Linked DNA regions of Homo sapiens: region 2 is linked to region 1. The links come from fine-mapping of genetic effects on gene expression. A gene starts in region 1. The other region holds a variant in brackets. All regions are shown on one strand. Distances are between the middles of the regions.

Evidence for each region. PIP is the estimated chance that this variant, and not a neighbour inherited with it, causes the effect.
Region 2: its variant is the best candidate, but not a certain one, in a credible set for the expression of SUPT16H in skeletal muscle (GTEx, PIP 0.72).

Annotation. Positions count from the first base shown.
Region 1 is chr14:21,381,678-21,387,053 of GRCh38, reverse strand. It overlaps SUPT16H (SPT16 homolog, facilitates chromatin remodeling subunit), which reads left to right and starts at 3,035. Exons shown (of 26, transcript NM_007192.4): 1 at 3,035-3,192. The coding sequence starts at 3,127. It overlaps CHD8 (chromodomain helicase DNA binding protein 8), which reads left to right. Exons shown (of 38, transcript NM_001170629.2): 38 at 878-1,855. The coding sequence ends at 1,441. LOC107984643 (a long non-coding RNA gene) reads right to left here and starts at 2,781. Exons shown (of 2, transcript XR_001750627.2): 1 at 2,341-2,781.
Region 2 is chr14:21,350,620-21,355,995 of GRCh38, reverse strand. It overlaps RPGRIP1 (RPGR interacting protein 1), which reads right to left. Exons shown (of 25, transcript NM_020366.4): 25 at 4,695-4,892. The coding sequence ends at 4,780. SUPT16H (SPT16 homolog, facilitates chromatin remodeling subunit) reads left to right here. Exons shown (of 26, transcript NM_007192.4): 23 at 1,456-1,585; 24 at 2,164-2,293; 25 at 2,431-2,508; 26 at 3,178-4,520. The coding sequence ends at 3,323. Among named protein-coding and RNA genes, the nearest start is that of SUPT16H, 31 kb to the left of the region's middle. RefSeq lists an enhancer at 2,813-4,012. The variant T/G (reference allele first, on the strand shown) is at 3,486.

The DNA of each region.
Region 1 (5,376 bases):
TATCAATGTGGAACAAAAATTATTTTATTAAATTTAGTGAGGAGTTTCTGACAGTTTTTTGGTGTTCTAGACATGTAGAAATCTTTATCTGATCTGTCTTGAATTTACCCTGCTTTGATGTGCTAATAGAGGATATTATTGTAAATGTCAATTCACATAGTAAGAACAAGTGAACAACTTGCCATCAGGAGACACGAGTGATTTTTTTTTTTTTTTTGAGACGGAGTCTCGCTGTCGCTCAGGCTGGAGTGCAGTGGCGCGATCTCGGCTCACTGCAAGCTCTGCCTCCCGGGTTCACACCATTCTCCTGCCTCAGCCTCCCGAGTAGCTGTGGGACTACAGGCGCCCGCCACCTTGCCCAGCTAATTTTTTGCATTTTTAGTAGAGACCGGGTTTCACCGTGTTAGCCAGGATGGTCTCGATCTCCTGACCTTGTGATTCCCCCGCCTCGGCCTCCCAAAGTGCTGGGATTACAGGCGTGAGCCACCGCGCCCGGTCACAAGTGATTTTTTTTATGTGCATTTACTAATTCATTGTCTTACCCAGACCCCTTCTTAACAAAGGTAAGCATTTGTGAAATGGTTGACTAAAGTAAAGATACAATATAGTCATGGGGAAAAGAAGCAAAAACTGGTTAATATGAGTTTCGGTACAAAATCATTGATCTTAACTTTAGTATCAGAATGTTTCAACCAGCTAAGTCCAGCATTTCCTCCTTCCCATTACCACCAATCAAGCCTAGTATCGCTGTGCTTGTTTTGCCTCTTCTAAGGTACATTCAGTAAAAAAGCATTGTAAGCTAGGACTCTGTTGGCTTTGGTTTCTTTTCTTTTTTCCCCTTTCTTTCTTTTTATTATCTTCTATTCCCTCCTCCTAGGGTCATCACACTGAAACGGTGTTCAACCGGGTTTTGCCAGGGCCTATTGCACCAGAGAGCAGCAAGAAGCGGGCCCGTAGGATGCGACCAGACCTTTCTAAGATGATGGCCCTCATGCAGGGTGGAAGCACTGGGTCTCTATCTCTGCATAACACGTTCCAACACAGCAGTAGTGGCCTACAGTCTGTGTCATCTTTGGGTCACAGCAGTGCCACTTCTGCATCTTTGCCTTTTATGCCATTTGTGATGGGTGGTGCACCATCATCCCCTCATGTAGACTCCAGCACCATGCTTCATCACCACCACCACCACCCCCACCCCCACCATCACCACCATCACCATCCAGGCTTGAGAGCCCCTGGCTACCCCTCTTCACCAGTGACTACCGCCTCTGGTACTACCTTGCGGTTGCCACCACTGCAACCTGAGGAGGATGACGATGAGGATGAAGAAGATGATGATGACTTATCTCAGGGCTATGATAGCTCAGAAAGGGACTTCTCACTCATTGATGATCCTATGATGCCAGCTAACTCAGACTCCAGTGAAGATGCTGATGACTGAAGCCCCAGCATGGGCCCCATTGCTTGGGCGGCTGCTGTATTTTCATTTACTCTGGCCCTTGGACTATGGAAACGTGGGAGGGGCAGGGGAGATGTGGGGAAGTCCAGGACTCCAGGAGGTGAAAAGGAAAAAAAAAAAAAAATGTACCTGATTGCTCCCAATTATGAGAGGATTGGGTGGGCAGGGGAACTCCTAAAATAATACATGACCACTTCCTCATTTCTGGGGAAGGAAAGGAGACTAGAGCAGCTGGTGTGCTCACCCCTCCCTAGTCACCTCCATTAACCACAGACTATGTAGCGCTGGCCCTAGCCTCTGGCAGAGCCTGTTCCTGGCCGAACTGTGGATACAGCTGGAGGGTCAGGAACTGTTACCTTCTTTCCCCTTGGCATTAATAAATTTAAGTTAATCCTTTTCCACTCTTCCTTTGTTCTATGTTTGCTCAAACCCAGTGTATTGATTTTGAGTTGTTAATGGTGGGTAATTTCAGCACCACTTTCCTTAAGTTCAATACTGTTTATACTAAATTGCCTTACAGCAGACAAGTCATCTGTACTCCTCTAAAGGGTATATACAAATGTAGACTGTCCAGCTGGCTAAAGGCAAGGGAATTATTTAAGGTAAATGGTAGGTAGGCAAACTTCTGGATTCAAACTCCAAGTTTTTAGAAGAGACAGGGAGCAAGAATGTCATCAGGAACCATTTATGTTTTGTTTCTAATTAACTGAAGTAACGGTTATTTGGGGGAAGCCATAGAATAGTGCCAGTTTTCATGAACTGCAGCAAGGGGACTGGCCGACTGGAAGGATGCTGCCGCGACTTGGGCTCAGGGGGTGGGGTTGTGGGAAGGAACTAAAAGTTTGTAGAGCCCCTCAAGTCATCTGTTTCCTCTGACTTACACCATCCCACTGCTCAGTTAAAGCTTGCGCATATTATTTTCCTTTCGAAAACTAGGTTCCTCCCCCAGCTTGGGTCGTAGTTTATCACGAGGCTGGGCTCCATTTCCCTGGTATGAGTCCTCTGTCCCGGCGGAGCGCTTGACCCAGCATCCTGGCACCGAGGATCCCTCGAGTCCTGGAGCAGTCAAGGGCTTTTGCATTCCCATCATTTCTAGGAGGGGCGCATGCCCAGTTACACTGTAGTAGTCCCACTTTTATCCCACGCTAGATCCCGCTCTTTCCGCTCCCCCTTCCTTTGCAGATGGGGTGGAGCTATAACACCCGCGCGCGGCAGCTCTTGTGGGCGGGGCAGGCGCCGCCTCCTTCGCTTCGTCTAGGGACTGCCGCCTCGGCAAAAAGTCTGAGGTCCTGGAAACCGCCGCTGGGCTGAGAGTTAATAAGGGCGGAGGCAGACCGTCACGTGACGACGTCGATTCGCGTGCGGCAGTGGCGAAGTTGACAAACCCCGCGAAAATCGACTCTTTGCATCGCACATTTTGTTGATTTTCCCTCGTTTTTCTTTCTCTCTTTCCCCCGTCCATCCGAAAGAGGGTTGGAAAAAAACAAAACAAACAAACAAACAAAAAAAAAACCTAACGCTGTTGGGACCCGGAAGCGGAAAGGGCATCTTTGAGGTCGATACTTCCGGGTCATTGGGAGAGTGCGGGATTCCTGGGCCGAGAGCGGGTGGCTGAGCCGGGACCTCGCGTGATTCTCGGAACCCGAGGAGAAGCGGCGTCCGGGGCTATGGCTGTGACTCTGGACAAAGACGCTTATTATCGGCGAGTGAAGAGACTGTACAGCAATTGGCGGGTGAGGAAGATCCTGTAATTTTTCCTAGGGAGCCCCCTTAGCCATCCCATAATAACCCTGTTTCTCGGCGCCCTTTTTTCTCTTTCGGTCAGGAATTCCCGGGTTCTGTGCCTCACCCTTTTCGTTGCTCCCGAATCATTCACCGGAGGCGGCCACGAACGCTGCCCCTTAACAGGGAATCCCCCGCATTCACCCTGTCCTGCGGCCATCACCATCTTCCCCGCGTGCCAGCCTTGGTCATGCATAGCAGCACCTCTCGCAGTCTCTTCCCGCCCTAGAAGAGGCAACATCCTTCCCTCCTACTCCGTGGTCACGTCTTGCTGCCCTCCCCTGCCGTGTTCTCACGCACTCGCTCTGTCCCTCCAGAACCACAATATTCCACCCCTGGTCCCGCCAGGATTATAACCGTCTTCGTAAAGGAGAGATGGAAGGGCAAGGAGGATGTCAATCGGGCTTTTAGCGTTTATCGTTTGCGGGGCTTTTGCTGGAGTTAAAAAAAGAAATACTGCTCACGCGCAACCGCCTCATGTTCTAGGCCCTGCTGTGGGTTACAGAGAGGGACCTAACGCTGAAAGCCTGCAGGCATTAGTAATAACAAAACAAAACAAAACGATGCCTAAAACCTTATTAGTTCCTTGGTAGCGTATCCGGGGCACGTGTTCATTAAAAGAGCTGTGGCAGTTCCCAGTTTTTTAAAGATTCGGCAGTTTTGCTGCTCTAAAAACGTCCACAGTTAAAACTTATTTTTATGATGTTAACTTACTAATTGAGCAAACATTTGGTTGCATTCTGTGATGCAGTCTGAGTTGGCTAGCTTAAGTCTTGCCCCTGAACCCTGTCATCAAGGGAAGATACAGCTAATAAAGATTTTTTTTTAACCTGAAAAACGTTTTGAGAAAAATGATCAGCTCTCATTTCAGCATTGTAAATTATCTTTCAAACTGGTCATCTACTAAAACCAAGCCATTAAAATTGGTCGTTTCCTTGCCATTCATATTAAAGCTGTCTGTGCATGTTTCATCTTTTGGGGCTAAATACATTAGATAATTGAAAATAAAATTGATTCTCTTGCATTTTATGAAAAGGAAAAATAAGAACTAAATGCTAGATGAATACTGAACATTTTATTTTTTTTAATTTTTTGATTAATTTCTACCAAATGATTTTTTGCAGCTTCTCTCAGTGTCATATTATTCAAACATAATCGATGTTAGAAAAACATTTTAAAACCTTGATACTTTCTAATGATCAGTAAGTACTAAAAATCCGAAGCCCTCTCTTGTACCCATAAACCCTGAAACTGTGAACCTTTGGTATGAAAATTGTTTCTAGTCCCAGTGATTCAGATTCATCAAATAATTTCATTCTCTCTATACCATTCATGAAAACTAATCTATAGCTCTCACTTCCTCTACATGACAAATTAACTGTGGCCTGAAGACAGGTTGGCAAACCTAATAAAACTGATAGTCTTTAAATCCATGAAAGTTATTTCCCACCCACCATTTTTTTTTGTATCTCAAAAATCTTTAAAGTTTATCTTGGCCCTCTTACTACCTTAATGACATCATCTTGGGAGAATGTTAGATATTGATAAGACACTGATGGTGTAAAGTTATGAGCCAAATCTATGTAAAAATGTACCAGTTAACAAAACCTGTGGCTATTATGAAAAACTTACTTGAATAAGACTTTCTGCTTTTGTGTTAATGTGTCCAGAACCCACCTGTAGAAGTTCTTTGTGTATGCAGTCTTTTCACCCTACAGTGCTTTCATTCTGATACACTTAATCAGAGATAGTAGTTTTCTGGGTTAAATCTAGTCGCTTATCCTCCTGGATATAGCAGAAAGATAGTGGGATATATAGGTGTGTTGTATAACTTTTCTCTTTTACACCTTTTCCTTTTTTTAATAAGAAAACTGGGATTGAAATAGAATAAGTTGAAGTTAATGGTAAAAATTCCAAACCTGGCTGGGCACCGTGACTCATGCCTGTACCCAGCACATGAGGCCAGGAGTTAAAGACCAGCCTGGGCAAGATGATGAGACCCCCGTCTCTACAAAAAAAAAAAAAAGGCAAATAAATTAACCAGGCATGGTGGTGTGTGCCTATAGTCCTAGCTACTTGTGATGCTGAGGCAGAAGGATCCCTTGAGCCCAGGAGTTTGAGGCTGCAGTGAGCTG
Region 2 (5,376 bases), 31 kb after region 1:
CCTTCTTTCAGGGATTATGGTCTTGTGCTGCTTTTTATCCAATGTCTGAAAACTGTTGTTTCATATTTTGTTTTGTAGTTGTTTAAGGTGGGAAAGTAAATCTAGTCATTGTTACTCCATCATGGCTGGAAGCAGAAGTTGCCGTGTATATTGTCTAAAGTGGATTTATGCCAGTGGTTCTCAGGCAGATTTTATGGTTGTTTGTTTTTATCCTTACTATTGTCATTTCTTTGATTTTTTTCTTCTTACCCACTCTTAACTGATTCAGCCCTCCTCAACAGAAGTGAGAAAGAGAAAGTCATTTGAGCATTGTCTAAATACAGGGCACTTTAGGTACTGGGAAAAAAAATTTGTTCCTACCTTCATACAGATTTTGCATCAAATAAACAACACATAGGAAAGCAGTGAAAGGTTGAAGAAGAAAGGCTAGGGCCATTGAAAATTGTCCCTGTTTCTTTCTTTTTTTTTTTTTTTTTTTTTTTATTATTATTATATATTTTTTTGAGACAGAGTCTCACTCTGTTGCCCAGGCTGGAGTGCAGTGGCACGATCTCGGCTCACTGCAACCTCCACCTCCCAGGTTCAAGCGATTCTCCTGCTTCAGCCTCCCAAGTAGCTGGGACTACAGGCGCGTGCTACCATGCCTGGCTAATTTTTTGTATTTTTAGTAGGACGGGGTTTCACCGTGTTAGCCAAGATGGTCTCGATCTCCTGACCTCGTGATCCGCCTGCCTTGGCCTCCCAAAGTGCTGGGATTACAGGCGTGAGCCACCGCACCCGGCTGAAAATTGTCCCTATTTCTTAACTACAATAGTGAAAAACAGAATCGCAGAAGTGGTTATGAGTTAAGACTACTTAGAAATAAGAATGGAATCAGTGACAGAGAGGGAAAAGCATGGGTGAATAGGAGAGAAGACTAAGTGAAGAAGAGGGAAATTGGTGTTTAAGGAAGAAAATGGGAGAGGATGAGCTCAGACTCAGGTGAAGGAGAAAGCTTGTTTCAGTTGGAATGTTGGTCTGTTGTGAGGGCTAGTGCTCTAGGAGATCAAATAGCAGCCATTGGGACATGATCTGGTGGCATAGTGCAAAGAATATCTGCTCCCAGGCAGGGCGCGGTGGCTCACACCTGTAATCCCAGCACTTTGGGAGGCTGAGGCAGGTTATTCACCTGAAGTCAGGAGTTCTAGACCAGCCTGACCAACATGGCAAAACCCTGTCTCTACTAAAAATATAAAAATTAGCCAGGCATGGTGGCATGCGCCTGTAATCCCAGATACTCGGGAGGCTGAGGCAGGAGAATCACTTGAACCTAGGAGGCAGAGGTTGCAGTGAGCGAAGATTGTGCCACTGCACTCCAGCCTGGGCAACAGAGCAAGACTCTGTCTCAAAAAAAGAAGAAAGAATATATGGAAAATACAGAAGATTGATTTGACTTTGTCATGTCATTTCTCTTAGTTCCTGCGACCTGAAATACACAGAAGGAGTACAGTCCCTCAACTGGACTAAAATCATGAAGACCATTGTTGATGACCCTGAGGGCTTCTTCGAACAAGGTGGCTGGTCTTTCCTGGAGCCTGAGGGTGAGGTGCGTGAGTGTGGGGTTTCTTTTCTGGTACACAGTGTTGCCCGCTATCATTTGGTCAGTTAGAATGGAATATGAGTAGTACATAAGGGACTAGGCCATCTGGGAGAAGCTCTAAACACCACTTGATATTATTGTTTCTTCAAATTGATAAATTGATTGGGCAGTGGTAACTAACTCCTGACAAGATTTCTTGGAAATTACAAAAACTTTTCCTCAATGAGTTTCTTAGCATTTAGGGAAAAATCCTTCAGGGCATTTTGCAAAAATTATTTTTTAAAAAATGATCCACTTAACGTTTGTGTGATACGTAAATACAGAAAGTCTTTCTGTTGTTAATTTCCCTGGGTGAGGAAGGCTAACGTGAATTTTTCAGAAATGTAATAATACATAATAATAGTAAAATAATAATTGCACCTGACCACTAATTTTAAACAAGTCATTTTATCTCTTGATCCCTCAGATTATTTTGCTCTTGTTTTCTTCATGTAAATACTGGTATACTATGTGGGCTGAATTAATTCATTAAGTTAATAAGGTAAATGTCAAAAAAAAATCAGTATTATGCTCTAACTCACCAGGGGAGTGATGCTGAAGAAGGGGATTCAGAGTCTGAAATTGAAGATGAGACTTTTAATCCTTCAGAAGATGACTATGAAGAGGAAGAGGAGGACAGTGATGAAGATTATTCATCAGAAGCAGAAGAGTCAGGTTAGTCTTACAGAGCAAAGTTCGTCCTGGCTTCCTAATCTAATGTCATTTCTGAAAACTACTTTTTTTAGACTAAGAACTCTGTCGTTCCATTCTGTTCCCGCATGATGACTAACGCTTAATTAATTTTCTTCCAGACTATTCTAAGGAGTCATTGGGTAGTGAAGAAGAGAGTGGAAAGGATTGGGATGAACTGGAGGAAGAAGCCCGAAAAGGTTTTTAAAAATGTGTTGTTTTTTATTCATTTGTCTACGCACAAATTTCTAACACATTTCAATATTTTGAGGTGTTAGTATTGATGGCGTAATGAAAGTAACAAAAGAACACTATAAAAGTGCTTTGGAGCCACAGATACAACTTCATTGACTGAAGGAGAAAATGAGGTGTGGAATGTGTCCATACTCTCCAGTGGGCAGTGCTCTGCCAAACTGGATGCTGTTTTCATCTGCGCAAGCCCCCATCTTTCCTATAGCCATGATAGCCACATATTCATGTAATACTCAAGAATTAGCCTACTCAGTTTCCAAACCTAAATCCTATAATACTTTAATTTTCTAGGCTTCTTCCAGGTTAGGCATGTCTTTATAATGCTAATCTAGTTACTCTGAAGCCAAACCCCAAACAAACGTTTTAAAGCTTAAAAGGAAATAAATATTAACTGCTGTGTTCCAAGCATTGGGAATAGGTAGTTTTCATAGGTTACCTTATTTAACCCTTAAATAATTCTCCCTTTTGTAAATAAACCAAGGTTCAGAAAGTACTTGCCCAATATTAAAACTTGGGTCTGATTCCAAAGTGTATTCTCTGTACTATCTCATGCTATCCAGTAATATTAGGTACCTAAAGCTTACCTATTGCTAACTAATAATGCCTCTTCTATTTAGCGGACCGAGAAAGTCGTTACGAGGAAGAAGAAGAACAAAGTCGAAGTATGAGCCGGAAGAGGAAGGCATCTGTGCACAGTTCGGGCCGTGGCTCTAACCGTGGTTCCAGACACAGCTCTGCACCCCCCAAGAAAAAGAGGAAGTAACTTCTGAACTTTGGCCCTGAGCTCCATTCTTCCTCCAGCCAACCCCTGAAAATTTTACATGACATAGAAACTGTATTTTTCCTTTCGTTTTCATTTGAAGTTTTGCCATTTGTGTTTATGGGTTTAGGGGGCCATTTGTGTGGACCAATCTACTCGGGGAAT[T/G]CCAGGCCCACCAGGACACGTGCCAATGGCCCCATTCAGATGGCAAGGGAGGAGGTGTTCTTGAAGACAGGAGGAGGCTCCCGCTGTTAATAAATATTGTTTCATTCTTCTCTCTTCCTGTCACCTTCTGCCAAGACATTGATGGCTTCTGACATCTTATTTGGTGTCTCAAAGCTGTATTTCCAAGACAGTGGTACAAGGTGACCCTTAATTACCCGTATCATGGTTCTTGACCAGCACATTCAATCCTCCAACCTACCCTACTGCCATGACCTTCCGCACATCTCTAAGTTTTATCTTTGCAATACTCAAGGTTCTCGGAAATTTGCTAATGGTTGTGATAAACCATACAGCTTGAGCCAGTGAGGCAGATTGGGCTGGTGCCTTCGTCTGAGTTTTCCTGCTTTCCTGCCTCGTGCAGATTCTGAGGTATATCTGCTGCCTTGGAAGACATAAGAAGCAGTGATACTCCCTGGCTCGGTTATTTTCTCCATACAATGCACACATGGTACAATGATAGAAGGCAAAATTGCCACTGTCTTCTTTTTTTTCTCATATATCTAAGGAAGATATATCAGGTTGTGCCTCATGTACCGCTTCTAGTGAAATGTAGAGGAAGGCTCAAAGGAGTCAACATTTATATCTGGAAGGGACAAGTCATGCCTTGGGCCTAGAATACCCTGATGAGAAAAGAGAAGAGGAAGGGAGGCCATATCTACAACACAGCCTCTCGGCACTGCTGCTCCTTATTTTAACTTTGTCTTGCATTGTCCTGTATTTATCACAGTTTCTGTTGAACAGCTTTTCAAGTATTTGGGGAGTTTATCTTGCCATCCTCCCCTTCTGGTTCTCTGCACCCACCTGTCCCACTGCAGTTCCTTCCGTGCTCTGTGACTTTAAGAGAAGAAGGGGGGAGGGGTCCCGGATTTTATGTTTGTTTGTTTTTTCTCCTTAGCAGTAGGACTTGATATTTTCAATTTTGGAAGAACTAAAAGATGAATAAACTGGGTTTTTTTTGTTGTTTGTTTTTGTAAATTCACCTGTGACCGTTCATTTTCAGTTCTTGAAAGCAAGCCTGCTTCCTGCCTGGTAAAGTGCTAAGGTACTGGAGAAAAATGCCTTTAGCTAGCTAGTTTTACAAATGAAACTTTCATCATTCTAAACTTTCATCATTAGATTGAGAGACACTAGACATCACAGTAAACCAAATTCATGTTATAGCAAGCTAACTTTATAAGAGACTTTTTACTATGGTTCCCTCAGAGACTTTTAGATTGGAATAGCACTTGTTCCTTCATGAAAACAAATCTTCAGTCATCTCCTTGTAAATAGCATGGAGGACAGCAGCTGCTTGAAGGGAAACCTTCAGCCTTCCTATTGGGGTAGCCAGATCTTCAGGGCTAACAACTGTTGGGAAAGGGAAAAAAACAGCATCACTCAGTTGAACACTTTGATACTTGGTATTTGTCAGGTTAGGTACTGGGGATGCTAAATGAATGAAATTACCCATTTCATAAGAGGACTCAATCTAGTGAAGGAGAAAGGAAAATGGTATAGTGTATAGGTGCTATATAATAAATGGAAGCACAAGTTGCTTTGGGGACATAACGAGGCATCTGCACCAGAATGGACAAATTGGAAAGGATTTCTGGAGAAATCACCAGAAAAGTCTTAAGTGGATTTTCCCTGTGCACATACAAATGGCATGGAGGTCAGGAAGAACATAGCATGTTTAGGAATGGGGATAGGAGTGAGTTGGAAAATAGCCCACAAAGATAACGTCACTTGCCTTATGCCAGGCACTACCCTAAGCCCCTTAATCCCTTATTTAAGTGCTTCCTTAATCTTCACAACTCAGTAAGATAGAGACTGCTGTTATTCCCGTTTTATA